Linked DNA regions of Homo sapiens: region 1 is linked to region 2. The links come from fine-mapping of genetic effects on gene expression. Tissue or cell type: whole blood. Region 2 holds a variant in brackets; the other region holds the start of a gene. All regions are shown on one strand. Distances are between the middles of the regions.

The links. PIP is the estimated chance that this variant, and not a neighbour inherited with it, causes the effect.
Region 1: it holds the start of SPRED1, and the variant in region 2 is fine-mapped to the expression of SPRED1 in whole blood (INTERVAL, PIP 0.92).

Annotation. Positions count from the first base shown.
Region 1 is chr15:38,246,671-38,257,398 of GRCh38, reverse strand. SPRED1 (sprouty related EVH1 domain containing 1) reads right to left here and starts at 4,563. Exons shown (of 7, transcript NM_152594.3): 1 at 4,182-4,563. The coding sequence starts at 4,213. RefSeq lists silencers at 4,354-4,403, 4,414-4,473, 4,654-4,753, 4,854-4,903, 4,914-5,213 and 2 more.
Region 2 is chr15:38,060,159-38,070,886 of GRCh38, reverse strand. LINC02345 (long intergenic non-protein coding RNA 2345) reads right to left here. Exons shown (of 4, transcript NR_120330.1): 4 at 8,547-8,696. LINC01852 (long intergenic non-protein coding RNA 1852) reads left to right here. Exons shown (of 3, transcript NR_147201.1): 3 at 947-2,075. Among named protein-coding and RNA genes, the nearest start is that of LINC01852, 7.5 kb to the left of the region's middle. The variant A/C (reference allele first, on the strand shown) is at 6,269.

The DNA.
Region 1 (10,728 bases), 190 kb before region 2:
TACAGCTAATGATCTCAAATGCATAAATTCAGAGAAAACAAAAAAATGAGGTAATGAGGCTCCATTAATTCAACCACATTTGTAGAGCATTTGCCATCAAGCACTGTGCTAGGCATACAAACAAAAGTAGGGAATTACAGAATAGCGGTCATAGAAATAAGTAAATAATCACAATATTATATGATTTTAAAACTAATATACATATGTACGAAGTACAGAGGCAACATAGAGGGACAGAGTGTTGAAAGAGGGGAAGAGAGAAGGTCTTTTGGGGAAAAATGACAAATTTACAAAAGTTTGTAAGGAGAGGAATTCTAGGTATGGTATCATAATGTGTTTAAAATATATAATTCAGGATCATAAAGTTTTAAGTGAGAAAGCAGAGGGAAATTAAGTTGAAGCAAGTATGCAGTCATTTAGCTGATTTTTACACAGGCCAACTGAATAATAAGCAAATTTTTATATTATGTATACACCACATCTATATAAACAAACATTAGATGGCTTAATATTACACAGCTTTCCAGTGCTTCCATTTATTTCTAGAATGTTTTCCAATTTTATATATATATATATGTGTGTGTGTGTACATACATATACATACGTAAAATGTATGGGGTGAACATATGTTTATTTACACTTATCAAAAATAACTCACCACTGGGTATATTTTTTATGAGGCACTAAATGATATAACCATAAAAATTTGCTTTCTATTTACGGAAAAACAGTTCAAACTCAGATTACAACATAGTACGTTTATCATACATGGTCTAATTCTAGTTAACCTAATTCCAAAATCTAATATAATCCCAACTTGCTATTAGAAAGCCTAATACTGACACAGGAAGTGTTTCTGGCTAACGTGAACCTAATAAGCCAAATGCTTATTATTTCAGCTACTTCACTTCTCCAAATGTTTTGGCCAAATTGACAAAAGGACATGCAGTGCTATATACACTCAATACCAAAGGACAAAGACTCTTAAGTATTATATAATATGCCTTTAAATGTTTAAAACTCTATTTAGAAGGCTAATTCAATAATGTAAAATATGGTACAGTTATATCTATCGGAAACATTTGACTGGAGTATTAAACAGTCTCTGTGCAAATTACCTACAAAACAAACATGTATGTGGCTATTTCCTCTACTATTTATAACACAAATTCTTTTGCTCTAGAGTATGTTTACTATTTTTGAAAAGTAAGATTTTTAAACATAAATGTGAAACAATCTAAGAAATGCTTTATTCTAATTTATTTCTTCCTTACTTGGTTTGGCATTAAAGCAAAGCCCTACACATAACAGATCCCCCACTAATTCTTGATTAAATATATTCTCACAGTCAGCCTAGGAGTTATCCATTTCTCTACATAAAACTTTAATTTCAAATAATAAGCATGTACTCGAGGATTTCAGAATGAGGCCCTACTGGATTTTACCACAATGGCTATCTAGAAAGGGTTAATGGTTTCCCAGGAAACTGGTGATTTTCACTTTTCTTGAAGGTTGAAATCAGGTGAAAAAGAAACTAAAGAATGTTAAAAATAGTCCCTACTGTAATTAAATCCCTATGAGCAATGGCTTTAAAAAAGAGAAAAGGGAAAAAAATGTAAGGCCCAAATAAAATCCATGTTACAGGGCAGTTTTAAACTGTGCTAAGGCCTTAATGGCTTCTGCCATGATACGTATCTTTCTTCATAATGACTATAAATAATAAATTTCCATTTCAAAACGGTTCACCTATTAAAGATGAGACATAAATTACTATATTAAAAGCTACATTCCAAATAAGTTCACTCTGTGGTTTATCTAATGCACAAGCAAACAATGCTGGCTCTAGTAAAACTGATTATCAGATGAACACATTATTTTCTAATATAATAGAGTTTTTTAAAGTAAAACCCCCAAGATTTTGTTCCCATGAAGAGTTTACCAAAATATTATGCTAAATATTATTATCGCCCTGCCCAAACTTAAAAAGTATTACAAAGCTCCTAGGGAATAATTTATTAATAAAGCAGGATAAATTTGTGAAAAAACGATTTTAAAAGTCTGGGTGAGTGAGATAATTTCCAAGTTGTCCCATACTAAGTACATTTAGATGAAAAAAAAATATTTAAAGCAATCCTCTCACTGAAGATTGCCATCGGTGTTTCAAATATCAACATCTTGGGGATTAAATCACTGGGAGTATTTTCTCAATTTACTGTAATAGCAGTGGAACGCACTATCACTATACAAAAAAACCTGTTGTCTCAATTTATTTATGGCAAGTATTTAAAAAAATGGCCATTTAGAAAAAATATATTTTACTTGTGTTAATTCACATTCCATCATCTGCTTTTTTTATTAGCTGCAACCAGAAGGAAACAAGGAGATATTCACTGCTTTAAGAAAAAAATTAAACTGGTAAGAAGTCTTTTCCCATCTCTAAAAGAAAACTTAACATTTTTAATCCAAACTTTTTGAAAGATACCAATAAAAGTTACCGTCATTCGGTTCAGCATTTTTAGCAGTTCTTCTCCTAAATAACCATTATCTGAGATAGACTTCTTGATCTCCCTCAAAGTAGGTCTAATCTGCAGAAGGCAGGGAGAGACTGTACTGCACTCTGAATGGACAGCCAGGTATTTTATGAATGGAGGCGATCACGTGATCCCAGCACCTCCCCGAACTGATATTTCCCACATAACTGTGTCAACATTCTCAGAACAGGGGTAGTTGTTTGTGTGTGCGTATGTTTTTAAATTTAACCTAAAATTTCACATTCTTCTTACCTTCTGAACTCAAAAATCTACACACAGACAAATAAGCCGCGAATTTTTTTTCTTGGGAAATCCTTTCAAGATGTCCAAGGTGATGGATGTTTAATTATTTTTTTTATGAATGAAGAGTGTGCTATGCAAATGAGGGCGATTCACAAAAAGAGACAGAACATGGCTGCCACTTCTGCTTCTACACTGCACTGACACTGCAGCAATGTACCTCCTTCTACACCCGCTCAGCAGAAGCGTGTGTTTTGGGGTGGGGAGGGAGTAAGGGAGGAGGAAATGTTGTTTGGCCTTTCTCTAGCTATTTTACGTTAAACAGGACTCGGTACAGACTTTAAAAAGTTATTTCAAAAAGGTCTGACTTTAGTAATGCACTGTATTTAAAGGAATGCATCCAAATGACTAAGTCCTAACTCACTTAACTCTTTCCAACCCTCCGAAGATAAACAAAAGTTGAACTTAATTACAAGAAAACGGATGCTAATATTCTGCTTGGAATTAAATCCCTTCTCAATAGAAAAGTGTTGCCAACCATTATTTCTCCACGCAGCTGTCACGTTAAAGCAAAACATTTAAAAGACGAAGTATTTCGTTTGGAAAGCAAGGAGAAAGCCCAAATAAGCTAAAACTTAAACCGGAATGCTCTAAAAGTTAATGAAATCACCAACATATTCAGCAATGTAAATTCGGTTACATCAACGTAAATCATGTGTTTTCACATAGCTGAAAGGTAAAAATTAGCATTCAAAATTCTTCTCCGTTCCTGAAGACACGTCCAATATTCACAAAGGTAAACTCTAGCTCAACATCGCCCACACTCCAGGTGTCCTTAATCCTATTAAATTCTAAAAATGTTTCCCTAACCCTATTTTTTACAAGAATCTTACAGGTCATAAGTTTAAAAGGGGGAGGGGGGAGAGGGTGAAGGCTTAATCGGTATTTAAGAGTCACTGACTCATCGAATTAAGATTCAAGAGCAGTTTGCTGCAGGAGGTGCTCCCACACATTAGTTTCCAAGTGAAACAGCTATAAAGGAAGTAGGATGGATACTGAAGGTATGGTGACTGGTATGTGAGTGAAAAAGGACGGGACAGGGGTCTCACAGGCAAAGGGGTAGTTTCTACTCCACTTCCATCCATCCACATTATTCCCTCTCATAGACGTACAATTGCCATCCTCTCCCAACACTTAATCCCCTACCCCAAAAGAAAGCAGCTAAATGTGGGAGGATGGGGAGGGGTGCTGCCACTAAAAATGGCTAAAGAAATCAGCTATCTCCAGAAGATGCACCGAACTCTCCAGGGTCGCAAGCTTTCCGGCACCCAAGTTTCGGATGGGTCTGGGGGAGAGCCGAGGGCGGATAGGGGGAGGGGGATTAGCAATCGAGATCAATGAGGCGCTTACTCGTTGTCAGAAGTCGCCGTCTCCTCGCTCATCTTTCCCTCACCGTGATCCGATCTGGAGATGGAGGAGCAACAGCAGGCGGGGGAGCAACAGCAGCACCGAGGGGCAGGAGGCAGCGGCGGCCGGGGGGGCGCGGGGGCAGCGGCACAGGGGCCTCACCATGGTGGATGCCTCACCCAGAACGGTACCCCCCCAGCCGGGAACCCCGGCCACCCCCGCAGGGGGGTGGCGGCAGCAACCTCCGCCGTGGCGACCCCAGCCTCTTCCCCCGCCTCAGTGCCCAGCCAAGGGATCCGAGGAGGCCCGGTGGAAAGGGAAAAAGAGAGGGGCTGCAAAGGCTGACTGGAGAGCTGCTCCTCCAGCCACTGGGGTGGAGCGCAGCGGGGTCCGGCCAGGAAGGAGTCGGCGGGCGGAGAACCCGGGAGCAGAGGCGGCGCTTCCCTCAGGGATGCGGCGAGGAGGAAGCAGAGCTCCGCTCGGTGGGGGCCGGCGGGGGGGTGCCGAGCCCAGGCTCCGGGCAGCGGCGGCGCGGTCCTGCCGGAGCCCACCCCACCATCTCCCGCCTCGCCGCCGGCTGCCCCTCAACCCCCGGCGGCGTCTGGGTCGGTCCTCAGGCGCCGGCAGAGCAGGGCTAGGGGCCCCGCGGCGGCGGATTCCTCCAGACACGCTCCAGCCGGGACTCCTCCTCAGGGGGGTGGAGGGGGCGGCGGGGAGCGTGTGAGGCGAGGGGCAGGCAAACCGATCGTTCCCACCCGGCCGGAGAAGAGCGGGCGGGCCCGGGTCCGGGGGGCAGGATCCCGAGAAGCGGCGGGAGAGGACAAGAGCGGCTGCAGGTTCCCCGCCAGCCAGTGCCCACCAGCAGCTCAGCGGGCCAGCTCCTCACGCCCGAGAGAGGGGAGCCGCGAGGGGGGCGGCGGAAGCGCTCACGCCGCCCGCTCCTTCCGCCGCCGCAGCCGCTGCCCGAACCGGGGGCGCCCGCGAGAGAAGGAGGCGAAGTAGTCCCTCGCGACTTCTCCCGGCCGCCCGCTTTCCCCGGAGGCCAGAGCGGGCGCGGGGTGGGGCTGCCGAGCGGGGTGCCCAGGCTGTGAGGGTGTGTGGGTAGGACTAAAAGCCGCGGCCTCCGGGCGAATCACTGCAACTCGAAGTCATGTGCAGCATAGCAAGTTTCAGGAAAGTAGTTCCCTCCTCCCTTCATTTCCCAAATCGTTGTCGAGCCACTTAGCGGAGAAAGGGGGAGGGAGGCGGAGGGATATCCTCCCTGCACCGTGCTCGGTGTGCGTGCGCGCGCTCCAAACTCTTGGCACGCCGCGAAAGGGGGCGGGGGTGGGAGCTGCGAGGGGAGCTGCTAGGGAGGTTGCATTGTTGTGGCGCGTTACTCCCCGTTACTCTGCTTGGAATATCCGGGTTGCTTGAACGAAGAGGCTAGAAAGACAGTGTGCTCAGAGGGGAAATCTGGAGGCTACTCTCTTCTGCCGTGTGTGTGTGTGTGTGTGTGTGTGTGTGTGTGTGTGTGTGTGTGTTTTCTTTGCAGAGCAAAGAATGGAACTGGCATGAGTTCATCTTTAGTTAGTGGGGGTTAGAAGCAGGGACTGCAAAGAGAGCTCCTCCTGCTGTCCCCCTGGTTGCACTGCTGCAGTCCCCTAGCTGCATGCACGAAGTGTATGTGTGTGTGTGTGTGTGTGTGTGTGTGTGTGAGAGAGAGAGAGAGAGAATATGAGAATGTATGTGTGTTTTAACACCTCGCCTCGCTGCCTGGATTCTTACTGCGCAAGGGGTATGCTATCAGGGCATTCATCTCGGAAAGCTGGAGTGATTGTTAATGGAGAACGACTTCCATTGAAGCCCAGGGTAGGCGTGTTACATGAATCTGGCGCAGCCAGAACGGAGGAAATAACTCCCGCTGCGAGTGAGGTTGCATAACTATAGCGCAGGAGATGCTTCTGTGGCACGAACTGCTCTGAACGGAGGCGGACCGATTGGATAGACAGCTGTCACGAATGCATTGTTAGAAGACAAAGTATGCATTCATCTCAAAAGATTTTTGCACAGAAACCTACTGGGGTTGCGGGCTGGAGCCTAAGGTCAGCCCAGCCACAGGAGTCAGAGCTCCTGGCTCTGCAAATTCTATTATCTGTTCTCCACTTAGAAAACCAGCCTGTACATGAACCACCTTAGGGGACTGAATCCCAAGTGCTCCCAAGTTCCTGACGCATCTTCCCAGATATAAGTCTCGCCCTGCGTGCAATGTTTTTCTCTTCCTTCTCAGATTTGTGCGACCTAAGAATGAAGGTTGCCGCTGGTGCCACATTAAAGAGAACAATTCCCGAGGAAAAAAAGAAGTTGGGAGAACCTCGTTAACAAGGCAGCACTCCTCTTCTACCATCCCTCTCCAGGAATCGCAGGATTGTTGTTCTGAGAATGAGCGTGCACAGTAGTGCACTGTTAACAGTGTTTTGCACGTAGCAGGTGCTTAATAAATGTTTGACGAATGAACAGAGGCGCTAAACCAGTCAATGTACCCAAAAAACCATCCCATTGATTTCTGAGGTCTCTTTATGTAACTTGATTCCTGCCTCAGCAGCAGCATTGTCCTTACTCTTGAGAAAGAGAGGGGCAATGTTGATGATGGTCTGTGCTAGACATGACCTCTAAACCTGCCTTTTTGAACTTATTCTTGCCAAGAACTTATACATGGGAGTGTTGATACTGGCCTCTTCCCCTTCCAGGACTACTGTTAACCAGTTAGGCTGCTCAAGTTTCAGTCAAGTACCATCAGTTATAATCTGTGTTCTTATCCAAGTTACTGAAACTCTGGGCCTGCATAAAATGGGGATAATAGTACTTAACTTACACAGCTGTTGTGCTGATGAACGAGATAATAATATACAGAGTTACTTAGAACAGATTAAGAATTCACAGTAAGAATAAGTCCTAGTTCTTACTACTGTTTTGTCAGAGATAGTAATAAACTTCATGGCAAAATAGTGGCAGATGCTCTGAGGATTAAATGTAAAGCATTCAATATTCTTGTTCATGCATTCAACAAATAACTATCAGTTGCTAGACACATGGCCTGGTCCTTAGTAAGCCATTAATAAATGAAACTATCACAGTTATTATGATTAAGTAAATAGAAGGAAAGTCGGTCATTTGCAAAGGCCTTTATCTTTTGAAGATTTGCATCTGTTTGAGGTTCTAGTGTATCAAGGAAATTGTCAGTATAGTCTTTGGAAGAATCTTGGTTGTCATGAGCCAGGCACTGTGCTGGCTATTTCCACATTCCACATACACCACACACTGCTTACATAAAGGGAGCAAGATGTGATCAATAGCCCAAATTAATGCTTTAAAGATTGCTCTCAACTCCACGACCAAGACATAGTCAGCAAACCATCCACAGCCTTTGGTGGTCCTATGCCATTTCTAGAACACTTTTGTGCCCTTTTTTCAACAACGCATTTGTAGTTCTCTCACCCAGTTGTTAAAGATCTCACCAACTTTTTAAAAATTTGCTTTGGTTTAGCAGAGCTCAGAGTCTTCTACTCTGAAGCAGTCAGAAATGGTGCTACTGCTCAGAGCCAAGGGATCTTCTAGTCTGACTGTCAATCACTGGCTGCTCTATACTCAGGAGGCCTCGACTTATCTATCCGGGTGTCTGGACCTTAAGAGTAAAGAGACGTACCAACCAAAGACAATGTGTGAGATCTTATTTGGATCGTGACTTAAATATTTTTAAATTTGGGACAACTGGAGAGATTTGAACATTAACTGGAGATTTGATGAAAACAAGGAATTTTTTTTAAGTATTGGTTTATGGCAACATTTTCTTCAAGTCCTTACCTTTCAGAGATATGTACTAAAATATTTACAGATGAAACGTTATGCTTCAGAATAATCCACTGGGGTGAGGAGTAGGAAGAATGGGTAAGGATATAGATGAAACAAGATTGGTTATAGATTAATGATGAATACATTCTCTTTACTATTTTATAATTTAAAATGTTCTATAATAATTTTTTTAAAATACACTGCAAGTACTTAAAATGCAGATTCCTAGACCCCAGCTCAGAAATTGTGATCACTAGGTCTATGATGGGGCCATGCTTTTGTAAGTATGCCAGGTGCTTGGCCCTTTTTAGTCCTTCATCATCTACTCCCCCTTTCCTTAAAACCATTTTTGTCATCCTGTCTCCCAGCACATCCGTGATTGAAAGCTGTGTTCCAGCTAAACACAAAAAAGGGTGGCCAGTGGTATATCATAAGCTTAGATAGACACTGGTCAAGGCCAGAGGGATAGTTCAGTTAGGAAAGGGGATCCAGCCAGATGTGAGAAGCTAAATACAGATCACAGTTTTGTCTTAAGCTCCAACTCCATTCAGTTGGTACTAATCAAGAAGAATTCTATGGCCACATTCGGGCTCAGCAAGAAAGGAGATACTTATATTTGCTCAGTTGTGTTTTCTAGGTAGCCCTGTGGGAAGGAAGCTAGTCACAATAGCTGGTTATCACAAGTGACTATCTGTATTATTGTCCTCAGCTTTAGGAATTAGCCACAACCATTTAATGACCTGTTCGAGGTAATTAATTATCAATAGGATCCATGGGCCAAAGAGGGAGGAACAAGAGAACAATTGCCAAGTAATTGCCAGTATAGGATATGATCCAAGTTAAGAAGGTACAAGTGGATTCTGAGTTCCATGTAGGTATCAGGCCAGGGTTTATTCACAAGGACAGCAAAAAGTAGGCTGTCCTCACTGAGACACTGGCAGATGGCATGCTATTTTCCTATTCAAAGTTTCTTTTCTTTTTTTCACATTGCTCAGCCCATAGTAATCATCTTTCTTATGAGTTCAGAATTGGTCTTCTCAGATTCTTTTATTTTTGCCTTTGCTGTTTATACTTGTGTTGATAATTATTATTTTTGCTGATTCATTTTTTATGAGTTTATATTTGTTTTCCCAATTAAATTTTAGTGACTTGAAGGTAGGGGCTGCCCTTTATATTTTTTGGCATCCTTTTTAGCAGTGGTCGTAAGTAATAGAGGCTTTTTAGGTAAAATACTATACCAGAGCCTTGACTATATATAAAAATGAAGCTATACTGACTGGCACTGGAGTTGAAATCAGGAATCCCCTCTGGCTTACTATTGGGACTTAATACTATTGCAGTTTAGCATTTCACATACACTGTGCCTTGCACCAGAAGCTCTCATCAGATATTTGTATTCTTGAGAAGCCAAAAGAGGAGACAGCCATGCCAACATATGAGGTTCTAAAAGTACATAAAATACAAGTGCATATTTCCATTTCTAAAATTACCCTTAACATTACTCCTTAGCAGATGTTATTAAAATTTTGTTTTTTAAAACTGTAGTTAATGTGTGCCTTGATCAATCGGAACTTCCTATTTTCATCATGTACTTTGTTTAATAAATGATTTTTTTTCTTTAGTTTAACCAGTCTCTTGGCTAATGAGCCCTGCCTCTCAGTGGAATTACTAAGTGGTAACCATGTTTCTAAATAGTTTCCTTGCCTCTGGCATGAGTCTGCTTCCCCATCACTAGGATTCCCATGTTCTTCCAAACTAATGCAAAGTATAAAGGATAAGTATGCTGTTTTCCTTTTTTCCCTAAGGACGGCAATTGTTGGTTTGGCAGTATCCGGTGAGTGTGTAATCAGTTTACTTTTAATGCTATAACTGCCTTTTACAGGAAGTTTCCACAAGATTAGGATGAGTACAAGGGAAATGAGCAGTCTGCAATTTCCTTTATTTTCTGTATAATCTTAGCAGGGAGGATGCTTACCAGACCCCACACTACTAAATAAAGCACTTACCATTATTCTCCCAAATGGCTTTAGCATGCTCATTCTTTAACGGTTATGTCCCACTACAACAAATATGAAGGACTGAAATACCCATCATAAAATAATCCAAGGCCACGTGCAACACAAATTTAGTATGACAAAAGATTCTAGGTTGGTTCCTTGGATTTTGCTTTAAATATGGCATTGCTTTCCCTTTTAATGAGTACTAATTAACCATGGTATAGGATTACAACAGGATTACATTTGAAATACACATTGCCCTTCAGGAACTTACCTTCCTAACACCCTTCCCCAGTAGGTATTATTATTAACTCCAGGTTACAAAGAGACTTGCAAACTGAAGATCAGAGAGGTCCCAGAGGTTACACAATAGTAAAGGCATGGCTAGAGCTCAACCCCGTTTCATCCCCTCCTTCAAAATTCTGTGTGTGTGGGTGTGTATGTGTGTATGTTTCAATATTATAATTTCTCAAAGATGGGATATTTGGTGGGATAGACTTTCAAGTCATTATTACTTTGGATAATGATTTAACAGGAGAGTCCTACTTTTAGATAACGAAAGAATTAAATTCCTTGGCTATTATCAGCTGCCTTTTGTGGGCCTCAGGTACGTAAGTTCCTTTATACCATCAGTTCTTAGAGTAGGGTCTGGGGACATCTGGAGTCTCTTTTGTAAATTGGTTTCTAAATCTAGAGCCTTGATAGGAGGACTACTTCAATCA
Region 2 (10,728 bases):
TGCGAAACACACGGCTGCCCACAACATTGTTTCTTGTCCTGTGGGTCCGTTTGGCTTTTTGTCTTGATGTGGGCATCAACCCTGAGAGTGGAGACTGTTTTTCAGACTGTCCCATTCGTGTCTATTTAACCAGGTGAGTACAACCCACTTAAAAATCTCACATGTGAGGTGATTCCAGGATAGAACAAAAGTTGTACAACAGTAACAGTTGTGGTTTCCCTCCCTTTACAGAACTAGTGAGTTTTCATCAAATCATTGGGTATTTCTGTTTCTTTCTGATTTACAATATGCTTTTGTAGAGCACCTTTATCCTCATTTCAGATTGGTCATTACTAGGCAGTGACTTGAGTCGATCTACCTGACACTAGCAAATAATCAATGATTCAGAAGGGATTAGTGAAAGCAAGGATCAAAGGTTCTTGTCTGATTACCTCCATAAAGTCAAAAATCTCAAGTGATCATGTTTTATAAATTTTGATTAACTTGTTTTTTTAAAAAGACTATACCTATTTATCTGGAAATACAATTCATTAGCACCTTTTATCTTAAAAACCTAGAACTCCACATGCTTGAGAATTGTGGATGAGGATGAAGTTTGCAGAGACAGGTCCCAGAAGAGAAAAAAACAAGGATGGTCATTCCGTACTGCCAATTAAGAAATAACCTCAGAGAGGTAAAGTGGCTTGTCTGTTGTCACAAACGGTGGAATTAGAGTTGGATCTCTATTCTCCTGATTTCCAAGACTGTCCTCAAGGCCTCTAGTGCTTTAATGCCAAGGAAGCCTGCTATTTAGATAGAGACCAGACTCTGCATCCCAAGGGACATAAGAAAGCTGCCTCGTCTGATTTGATAAGATTGAGATAGCCATATTGCATACTGCTTTTCCATTTTTGGAAGGTATACATTATTAGCTCAACTTCCCTTTTCTTCTGCCTTATTTGTCCAGAAGCCAGAAACGTGAAGAGAAGACCTCGCCTTGATTTGCCAGATGACCCCTGGCCTTTTTAGTCAAGTTCCTGGAGAAGTTAGGGTGGAGACTTATTTGTCCTGTGTTTGGGGCAATAAAAGGGGAGGGGCCGCCTCCTCCAGCCTGTTCTAAAAAGCCAAAAAGCAAGGCTATTTACTCAGACCTGGGCTACTAAGTGCTGGGGTGGCCCATGTTGACTTAAATGAGCCCTTGCAGTTAGGTGGGGCTCTCTGGAGCTGTTAGTCATGTGAGGTTGCCAGGGCAACTTAATGTCTTATGAGTTGGAATGCTTCAAGAAGTACAAAGAGGAGACTGCAAGAGTGCATTACAACTTACAGTCATATGTTCAATAACATGTCATCTTTCCTAATGGGGCTTTTATTTTTATTTTATTTTGTGGGATTGAAAGATCAGAAGCCGGAAATTATCTGGAGAGGATAAAGAAAAGGAAAAATTAAAGGAGGGGGCTATTTCTGTTCCTTATGTGGGCAGCGATTAAACAAGGAGAACATCTGGTCCTGGAGCGGGTCTCTGCAGCACTGCTTTTAATTACCCCGTCATTTGGTCTCATGCTAAATTAGTGACTGTGGGAGCAGCTTAGATCTCCAAACTGACAGCCCCGAAGAGCTCAACTCAGCCTGCCACATAGTCAGAGGGGAAACACGGAGCTTCCGGTTTCATATTTAAACCAGGGATTGACTCATAATTGTAGCTGTCAGGAGGGTGATGGAGACATTATGTAATCTGGTTCTTATGGCGATGTGTGTTTAAGGTTTCTGCTCTGTAAATTCCAGAGGAAATTTTGTGTCCATTGAGGGAGAGCTTGCTGGCTGCTCTGTGGTGTGCCCTGCAGGGTAATTACAGTGCTATTAAAGGTTCCTAAATCTGCCTGAATCCAAACATGAATGAATTTCCCCCTGAAAGGCCCTCCTGTTTTTCCATAGACTTTTAAATGTGGATGAGGTTAGGCGAAATCTGGCAAACTGCAAAGAGGCAGTATGCTGGCCCAATAGGGAAATGTAATAATGGCAAGCCATTCAGGTCCACAACTATTTTTTTTCTGGACCACATAGCTTCCCTTACTATTTCCCATCATTTCCAGTCTCAGAGATTCTGAAAGCGGACACCAGTTGCTTCTGGAAACAAAGGATGAAGCTGTGGATCATTAGTTCCATTTTCATGCTGCTTGTTACTTGCCTCTCAGAGGTTTCAGCACCTCTGTGGACTGGTGTAAGTTTGCAGGGCAGCCAGGGAAGGCTTGAGGCAGATCCAGTGTTTGCTGCCATCAAAAAAAAAAAAAAAAAAGAAAAAAAAAAAAAGAAAAAGAAAGTCAGATGAGGCTGTTTAATTTTAAACTAAAAAGAATGTGCTTTTAACTATTTTGCTTCAGGGAGACTTGTGGTATGATGTGATTGTTCTCTGTACCCAAGTAATATAAGTTTTGGCTGCATGATAAGAAGGATTCATTCATAGAGAATAGTGCTGATATTAGAAGAATAACAGTAAAGACAAAATAGAATTTTAAAGGGTGAATGGGAGTTATGGTGGTGGAGTGATGAGGACTGAAACCCTCAGACACCCCCTGATTGCTGATCTGGCTGACCCAGAGTTCTTGCATCTGTTTCTGTACTTTTCCTCTCTTTCTTAAAAAATCCCCAGTCCACCAGTACTTGGAGTGCTATACTTGGCCTTTTCATGACATCGCAGAAGACAATGGAATATAAAAAGTAGTTTTAGTCAAAATTAATAGCTACATGTGTAAAAATATGTCATCAAAATGCTGGCTATCATAGTCATCATCAATCAATCAATCATCATCATCTATATTGTAATTGATTGCAGTTAGGTGGTCTCTGTTGTAATCTCTATTTTTCTAGAAAAATGAACAATTGGGAGAATTGGATATTTGCCCGTTGGTCTTTGAAACATGGTACTGGGAGTGAGCAATGTTCACTTAGCAAGAAGATGGAAAGATCAGCACTTGCTTTCCTACCACGCCTTGGAAATTTTTATGTAAGGTCATCCTATAAGTAGAATGGCTTGTCTTACTATGGTGGACCACATTTGCATTTTAGCTTTGCTTACCTAGCTCCAGATATTCACCTGATATGAGAAAGTTATTTTAATGAAAATAATATATTTAATATGCTTGTGTATTTATACACATAGAAATGTATATTTAAAGGAACGATTAAAAATTACCCTTATTCTTTCACAACCTCAGGCTGTAAAATCTTTATTAGGAAATAGTGACAGTGTAACAACTTGATTTATTTTCTCCCACCAGGCTGAAGTTTTATATGAATATTATCCAGTCACTATAGCTTGGGACCTTATCATCTGACTGATGGATGATGCAGGGATGGATAATTTCATAAGTTGTCTAGCCAGAGTTTATTCATTTTTCTAGTCATTGAAATGAGAAGACTTGATATGACTCCTATTGAGATACTTTCAAAGGCAACCATCCTTGTAATGGATTTTCTCTGTCAGAAAATTAGGTATTGATTTGCCTATTTTTTTTTCCCTGTACTAGAACTTACCGACGGACTAAGGATTCCTCTTCCAATTAACCCATTCATGCCTGAGGTTGCAATTTTTGGAATTTTTGGAATCAGACCTTGGTGATGACCTTGAGCAGTAGGATATAAATAATTCCCACGTGCTTAGCATTCCAATAATGGAACACCAGGCTTAAATAGGTGAAGGGCCATTAGCTTATAGAAAACGATAATCGAAGACAACAAAACAGTATTATCCTGGGGGCTTAAAGAAATTAAACTGAGCATTGGATGCGGTCATCAATAGGACATTTCCCTTTCTTGTCTTTTCTGACTTCTCTATCCAACCACAGGCTTTCATCATTGAGAATGAAGTAGCCAGAAGGGATAATTACCAGAGATAATAACTTATCTTTGATTTTAAAACATTAAGGAATTTTTATTAAGATTTATTAATAAATACATTTAATTTAGTTTGATTAGAATTATAGCTTTAGCTTGGCCTAAAACTGCCCCACCTTTCTGGGATCCTCCCTTCAGTTTTCTGACTCTTGGGCCACATGTGTATTTAGTTCTGTGACAAAGAGCCCTGGCTCCTTCAGGCACGATGCCCACATCATCAAGGTTAGAGGCGATTATAACTGATATGGGTTGCAGTCTGTTCCTGTCCTTGTAAATTCCGGATTGTACTTGCTCACTCCTACTTTCTATCTTATCTTCTCTTCCTGAAGACCCATGCTGTGGACTTCAAGCTCCAGCATCAGGCACAAAGACAACAGCCTTACAAAGACTTTTTAACCAGCCCCCATTGTGTAAGTTCAAATCTCCATAATAAATCCACTCCTCCCAAGCAAAACACACACACACACACACACACACACACACACACACACTTCCTAATGGTTTTGCTTCTCCGATTGAATTAATATTACTAATATTAATGTTGTTATGCAGATATCAAAGACCTAGGTAGGATTGTCTCAAGCTCTATTCATTCCCTGTAGAAGTCCAAAGTCCTCCCTAAGTTTTCTCCAAATTCTGTGAAGTCCACATTTTCACGGTCATTTTTGGCACATCTAATTTGCACAAAAGACCCTACAAAGCACTTGTGAGTATAATGTATTTATTAAAACTTTTGGTGGCATGAGGAGACAGAAGTGCAGTTCATGTTGAAACAAAAATAATTTCAAATTTAACTTGACTCATCTTTATTTGTAAAATGTTTCTCCACTATCCCATCCTTAGCGAATAGATACCCTTCCCTCATCCTATAAAATCCCCAGCTTCACAACAGCTCCTCGGTGCCTCTCTCCTTCCCCTTTTTCTCTTCTGCTTTCTGTTTCTCCCAATACTCCCATCCTCTTGTTTTCAAGTGCAGAGAAGCTTAACTATCTCTCTTTTCTTTTATGCTAAGATTATTGTGGATGTACGTCCATGTCCTCAGGATCTAACCTTCTATTCCCGATGGCTATTGTTCCAAGTCAAATACTGTTGCAATAGTTAAGAAAACAAAAATGTTGCCTGGTTACAATGGTAACAGGAGCAGGAAGCATACATTTAGTGCTTACTATGATCCAAACTCCAAGGGCTCTTTATGTCTTGTCTCGTGAGATTCCTACAAAAATTCAGTGAAGCCTGGCATTATGAGTCCCATTTTAACAATCTTGAAATTAGATCATAGAAAGTAAAAAAAACACAAAAGCAACTACAAAACCTAATATTTATTGAGTTCTTATACATCAGGCACTGTTTTAAGCACTAAATGTGTTTTGTTTTTAAATTGACTCTTCACAACTCTACTAGTTAAAAAAATTATCCCCATTTTACAGATAAAGAAACTGAGACACAAAATTAGGCAATTTTCTCACAATAAATAAAAAGTGGTACTGTGTATGGAAACCAGGCTGCTTGAATCTGGAACTCAGAATACCGTCTGACAAGGTAAGAAGGTGTTTAAATGTTTCTCATGTAGTCAGTTTCCTAACTCAACTTCATGACACCTTTCCTGGCTGACCGAATATTTCAACCATCCTTACGTTTTATATTTTTCATCGCTGTTTAATTTTTTCTCCATGGTACTTAATACTGACACATATTTTACTTATTTATTTTTTTTAAATTTTCTGTCCCCACTACCAGGATGTAAACTCCGTGAGGGCAGGGACATTTCTGTCTGTTTTACTCACGATTGCATCTCCAGGGCTGATAGGAATGCCTTTCACATAGTAGATGCTCAATAAGTAGTTACTGAATGAATCAATAAATGAATATATGCATGTATGAAAAGCTGCTTACACAGAGGACAGGGCCTTCTTATTAGGTTTTGCAGATACGTCAGGAAAACCCCCTTTGAATGGAGTTTGAAAAAGCTCTAAATTGGTGGGCTTTAAATGTGATCAAACTCATGTTGGGAGACCTTCAAATACTGTGCTCATTTTCAGGCCACCTCATGTTCCCGTCTCTTCTCTGCCTCCCCTAGGTGTATGTGTTTAAATCTCTCCATCCTGGTTTAACAGCCTTCTCTGTGGGCCTATTCTCTAGAAAATTCTTTGACTTGCCAGTTTACTTTTCCCATTTATAAGATGGAGATAATTTTACTTCTAACAACTTCAGCAGGATTTGGAAGAGATCATTGAGATGATAGGAAACCAAACAAAGTATTGAATCTTGGGAAGACTCTGGCTATAGAAACATAAATGAAAATTAAGATAAAATCCTTTTAAAAAATTATTGTTAGAAATTACCTAGCATGTAAATTTAGAATTTTTTTGTGTTTGTTTAATGAGGAAGTTACTTTTTC[A/C]GTTTGATTTTCTATTTAGGTTGGTAAAATGTATTAAAATTGTATCATGAATTAACAGCAAAGATAATATCTACTTATTAATTCAACAAACATTATCAAACATTTTTTATGCCAGACACCATTTTAGTATTAAAACAGCAAAAATGTCAGTGAGAAAAACAGAACCCTGGATTCTTGTATCATTCACAGAGAGATGTTTTTTAGAGATTGGTTATTGTATTAGCTTGTTAGGGTTGCCATAACAAAGTACCACAGACTGGGTGCCTTAAACAACAAAAACTTAGTTTCTCACAATTTTAAAGGCCAGCCATCTGAGATCAAGTTGTCATCAGGGTTGGTTTCTCCCGAGGCTTCTCTCTTAGGCTTGTAGGCGGCCATCTTCTTTTTCTGTCTTAATGTGATCTTTCCTCTGGGCCCATCTATGTCCAGATTTCCTCTTCTTATAAGGATATCAGTCGTTGAATTAGAGCCTCACCTCAATGACTTTGTTTTAACTTCATCGCCTCTTTAAAGCCCTATCTCCGAATACGGTCACATTCTGAGGTACTGGACATTAGGGCTTCAATATATGAATTTTTGTGAGGACACAGTTTAGCCCATAGCACTTCTTGTATTGCCAAACTTTTTGGGTTTCATTTTACTTGTTTAAAATAACAGTGGTGCTTTCTATACATACCTGTTATTAACACATCACTTAGTGGTTTTCTTTCTTTATGAGTATTGCAACCAGGTGGAAATAAACCTAGCTTTGGGAGTGACAGTAATATTATCAGAGGTCCTAGATGGACCAGACTTTGATCAGCATTACACAAACCCACCTAAATGGACAAGGGAACTGTTTTCTAAGATTTAAGCTTTTTGGAAAATGAGTATTGTACAGCTGAGCATTTCTTAAAGGGACTACTATAATTATTGGACCATACTAAACTTTTGACTAGATGGAATTCAAAGTTAATTTTCCTCTGGCCAACCAATGTGTAGAAACTCGGAAGACAAGTTACAGGCAAAATAGAGGAGTTAGATCCCAGCACCATCATTATTGTTGTCAACATCATTTTTACCATGTCACAGTGGGTGCTTTTACTGTCTTTTCCTCTCCTTGTTCTACTTTCTTCCCAACAAGTTTGTGAGCTGCTTGTGGGTAGGAAGTAGTTTAAGACTGTTGTCCATGTCCATTTATGCTTTGCATGATGCTGGGCACAGAGCCGGGGCTTGGTAAGCACTCATTGACCAACTGCAAGCTGTTTGCTGAGCCTGACAGTCAGAGGAATGGTGGTGGAAGAAGGATAGTAGGGAAGGGCATAGTTGACTGGCATGGCACAGCGAAGAGTGAATCCGTAGGTGGTTATGGCACTCTTGGCCTTGATCCAGCTATTGATGGATGTCACTATGGAGTTCTGATGAGAAGAAAGAGATGATTTTGTAGCTGCATGAAAAATGAGCTTCAGAGCAGGATTTCTCCAGTTTTATGAAATACAGACTTGTCATGATCTGCAAAGGATGTGAATTATTAGTTTCTCCTCAGCTTTAATCCACACATCACCATAGAAAACGCAAATGGTGGCGAGTGGGTAGGGAGAGAAGTGGGATCAAAACCGAGTTTCCACTTATTTCCTCTGACAATGGTTATAGTAAAACATTCTGACTAGGAAAAGATTAATCTCCGTTTGCAAAATTAAAAAGAAAACAAAAAACATGTGGAAAATATTATGTTGATGCATGTTTTGCTGAACAGATGGTGACGGTCCACAAACTTCTCAAGGATTTCCCTTCGAGGATGAAAGGAGAGCATTTTAATTTGGCTGAGTAACCTAGAGTCACTGAATCTGTTATGATCTTGTCTGTCTCTTCTTACGGAAATCCTTTTTATTGCCAAATTATGGATTTTTCTTCCAATAATTTTTAACAAATTACTTTAATCTGGAATACCCAATTAGCACACAAATGTGATGTTTCTTTTTCTGCTAGTTTAGTGTTTTTCTACAGGGAACACCTTATCTTTGTATTTTTACATATTTATGATTCTCATTTTGAGTCCCTGAAAGCACATCAGCTATAATGTGGACTGGCCACTTATTCAAATATTTGTTTTACAGCTGGGGAAACCGAGGGCTGGAGGCTTCTGTGACCCTCCTCAACATTTCACAATGAGTCACAGCTGAAGAAACATTAGAAATGGATTTCTTGACTCTGAAGTCATTGACCTTTCACTAGCCTTTTTAGAAACTGTGATTCTTGATGTACTTGAACCTATTTACTTGTGTATTTTCTTTTTTTGTGCTCTCTCTCCTTTTTGAAGAGTCTAAAGAAGACATAGGGAAGAGATTTTCCTGTAGAGATCCCCCTGATTGCTGGTTTCCTTTGAAATGAAACCACAGCTTTTCAAGTAGAACTTCGCAGAGGTTTATAAGAGGAGTCTGCTACACAGCTGGAGGAGGAAGAGGAATGATTGGTTATTAATTTAGCACTGTCCTTATGTCATCAGTCATTTCTTCTATCGGGACATTTTCTTCACTAGAAAAGAAAAAAAACGTTAAAATTAAGGACAGCAAGCAGCGGCTGTTTACCATTGATTGAGGTTTGGAGACAGGTGTTTAGGATTTTATTTACTCTGCTGCTCCCTAATGACTGCGCTCCTGTTTCTTCTTTTTCTGAAAAAACTTTTTTTTTTTTTTTATTTTTCTGAGACAGCATCTCATTCTGTCACCCAGTGCTGGAGTGCAGTGGTGTGATCACAGCTCACTACAGCCTTGACCTCCTAAGCTCAAGCGATCTTCCCACCTCAGCCTCCTGAGTAGCTGGGACAAGAGGCATGCACCACCACACCCACCTAATTTATTTTTATTTTAATTTTTTTTGTAGAGATGGAGGTCGCACTGTGTTGCTCAGGCTGGTCTCAAACTCTGGGCTCAAGCTATCCTCCTGCTGCGACCTCCCAAAGTGCTGGGATTACAGGCTAGAGCCACCGCACTGGGCCTAAAAAACAAAAAACAAAAACAAAAATCTTAACGTATCTGTCCTCTATCTAGACTCATCTAGACTGCCTCCATGAGATAGGCGGCCTTACAGCGATCCAAGTGAATCTGGGCCGGTCTTGTTGATGCTGAGGTTCGGTACCTGGTGCTGATCAGGGAGAGATGACTTTAATCTGCATTGATTTGTAATTCCAATGTACTCCAAACCTCTGAATAGGCCTGGAGACTGTCACCTGGAGCTGCACTAGCTGGCTGATTCTTCTTTCCCTTATTTAATGATCCTTATGGATAATTGGAAGGTTGTCCTAAATACAATGGCCACTCTTCAATTATTGTACACATCCCTTTGGTCTTTATTTTCTGTTTTTATTTCTTCTCTCAAATATTCTTGCATACATTCACACTTTACTCCTATAGTCTCTACTGCAATTCATTGCTTAAAGCTTTCTAACACCAGGAGTAAAAGAAGAAAGAAATGTTCTGCTGCTATTAACATGAGCAGCTCAAAATAAATTTGGAGTGTGAGTGTATTAAAATCCAAACACTCTTATGAATCTCTCTTTCCGTCTCCAATTTAGAGTGAAATATCAGGAAGAAACGAGGAGAAAAGTAGTTGATTTATTAAGTAGTTCAGTAATGCAAGGTGGTTTGCACAGATCATCTCATTTAATCCTCACAACCCTGTGAAGTGATTACTATTATTAGCCTCATTTTGCAGACGAAGGGACTATTAGCTTGTCAGCTCTACTGAGGCAGTACTCTCATCTTTGTATCCCAGGGCCTGGCATGTGATCCTTAGCTCAGTGTTTAATAAGTAATTAATGAATGAGTGGCTGAATTCTCCCCAAATTTATCCATTTTGACCCCTGGATCTTTATCACACCTAGCTTTTCTTTTCCACCTTGTCTTTGAAGTCTTTCTTTCCTCCTTCACTATTTTCCGTTTCTCACCTCTTGCCAAAAAGAGCTTGAGGTGATTCGCAAATATATACATATGTATAAATATACATGTATTATTCAACACTATAAAAAAGAAATGAGGCAATCAGGGAGAGTTTGCACATGTTATTTTTTCGTCTCAGATTTAGCTTCACTTGCCTTGACAAAGAAATATCATTCAAGGTTTTTACTGCGGATTTTCTTACATTTAGACTAAATATATAAGTTGGTTTTCAAAGGTGCTGGCCACATATACTGTTCCCTTGTGTTGATATTTCAATGTCTTATGTCACCTGAGATGGCTTTGGTGAAACATTTCTAGCTGTCCTTCATACTACCCAGTTGCCAGTCAAAAATTAAGCAACTTATATGGGGTCAAAGTTTCAGGTAATTTACCCATCAGATGGTTGTATATTTTCAAACTGTGCTCCAAAGATCTCTGAAAGTTCCATAGAGTTAAGTCAGGACAAACTTGGAGGATAAATTAAGCTCAGACATTGAATAGGGCTCTGGGTTCCATGTCTTTACTTCAAGCAGAGAATCTTTA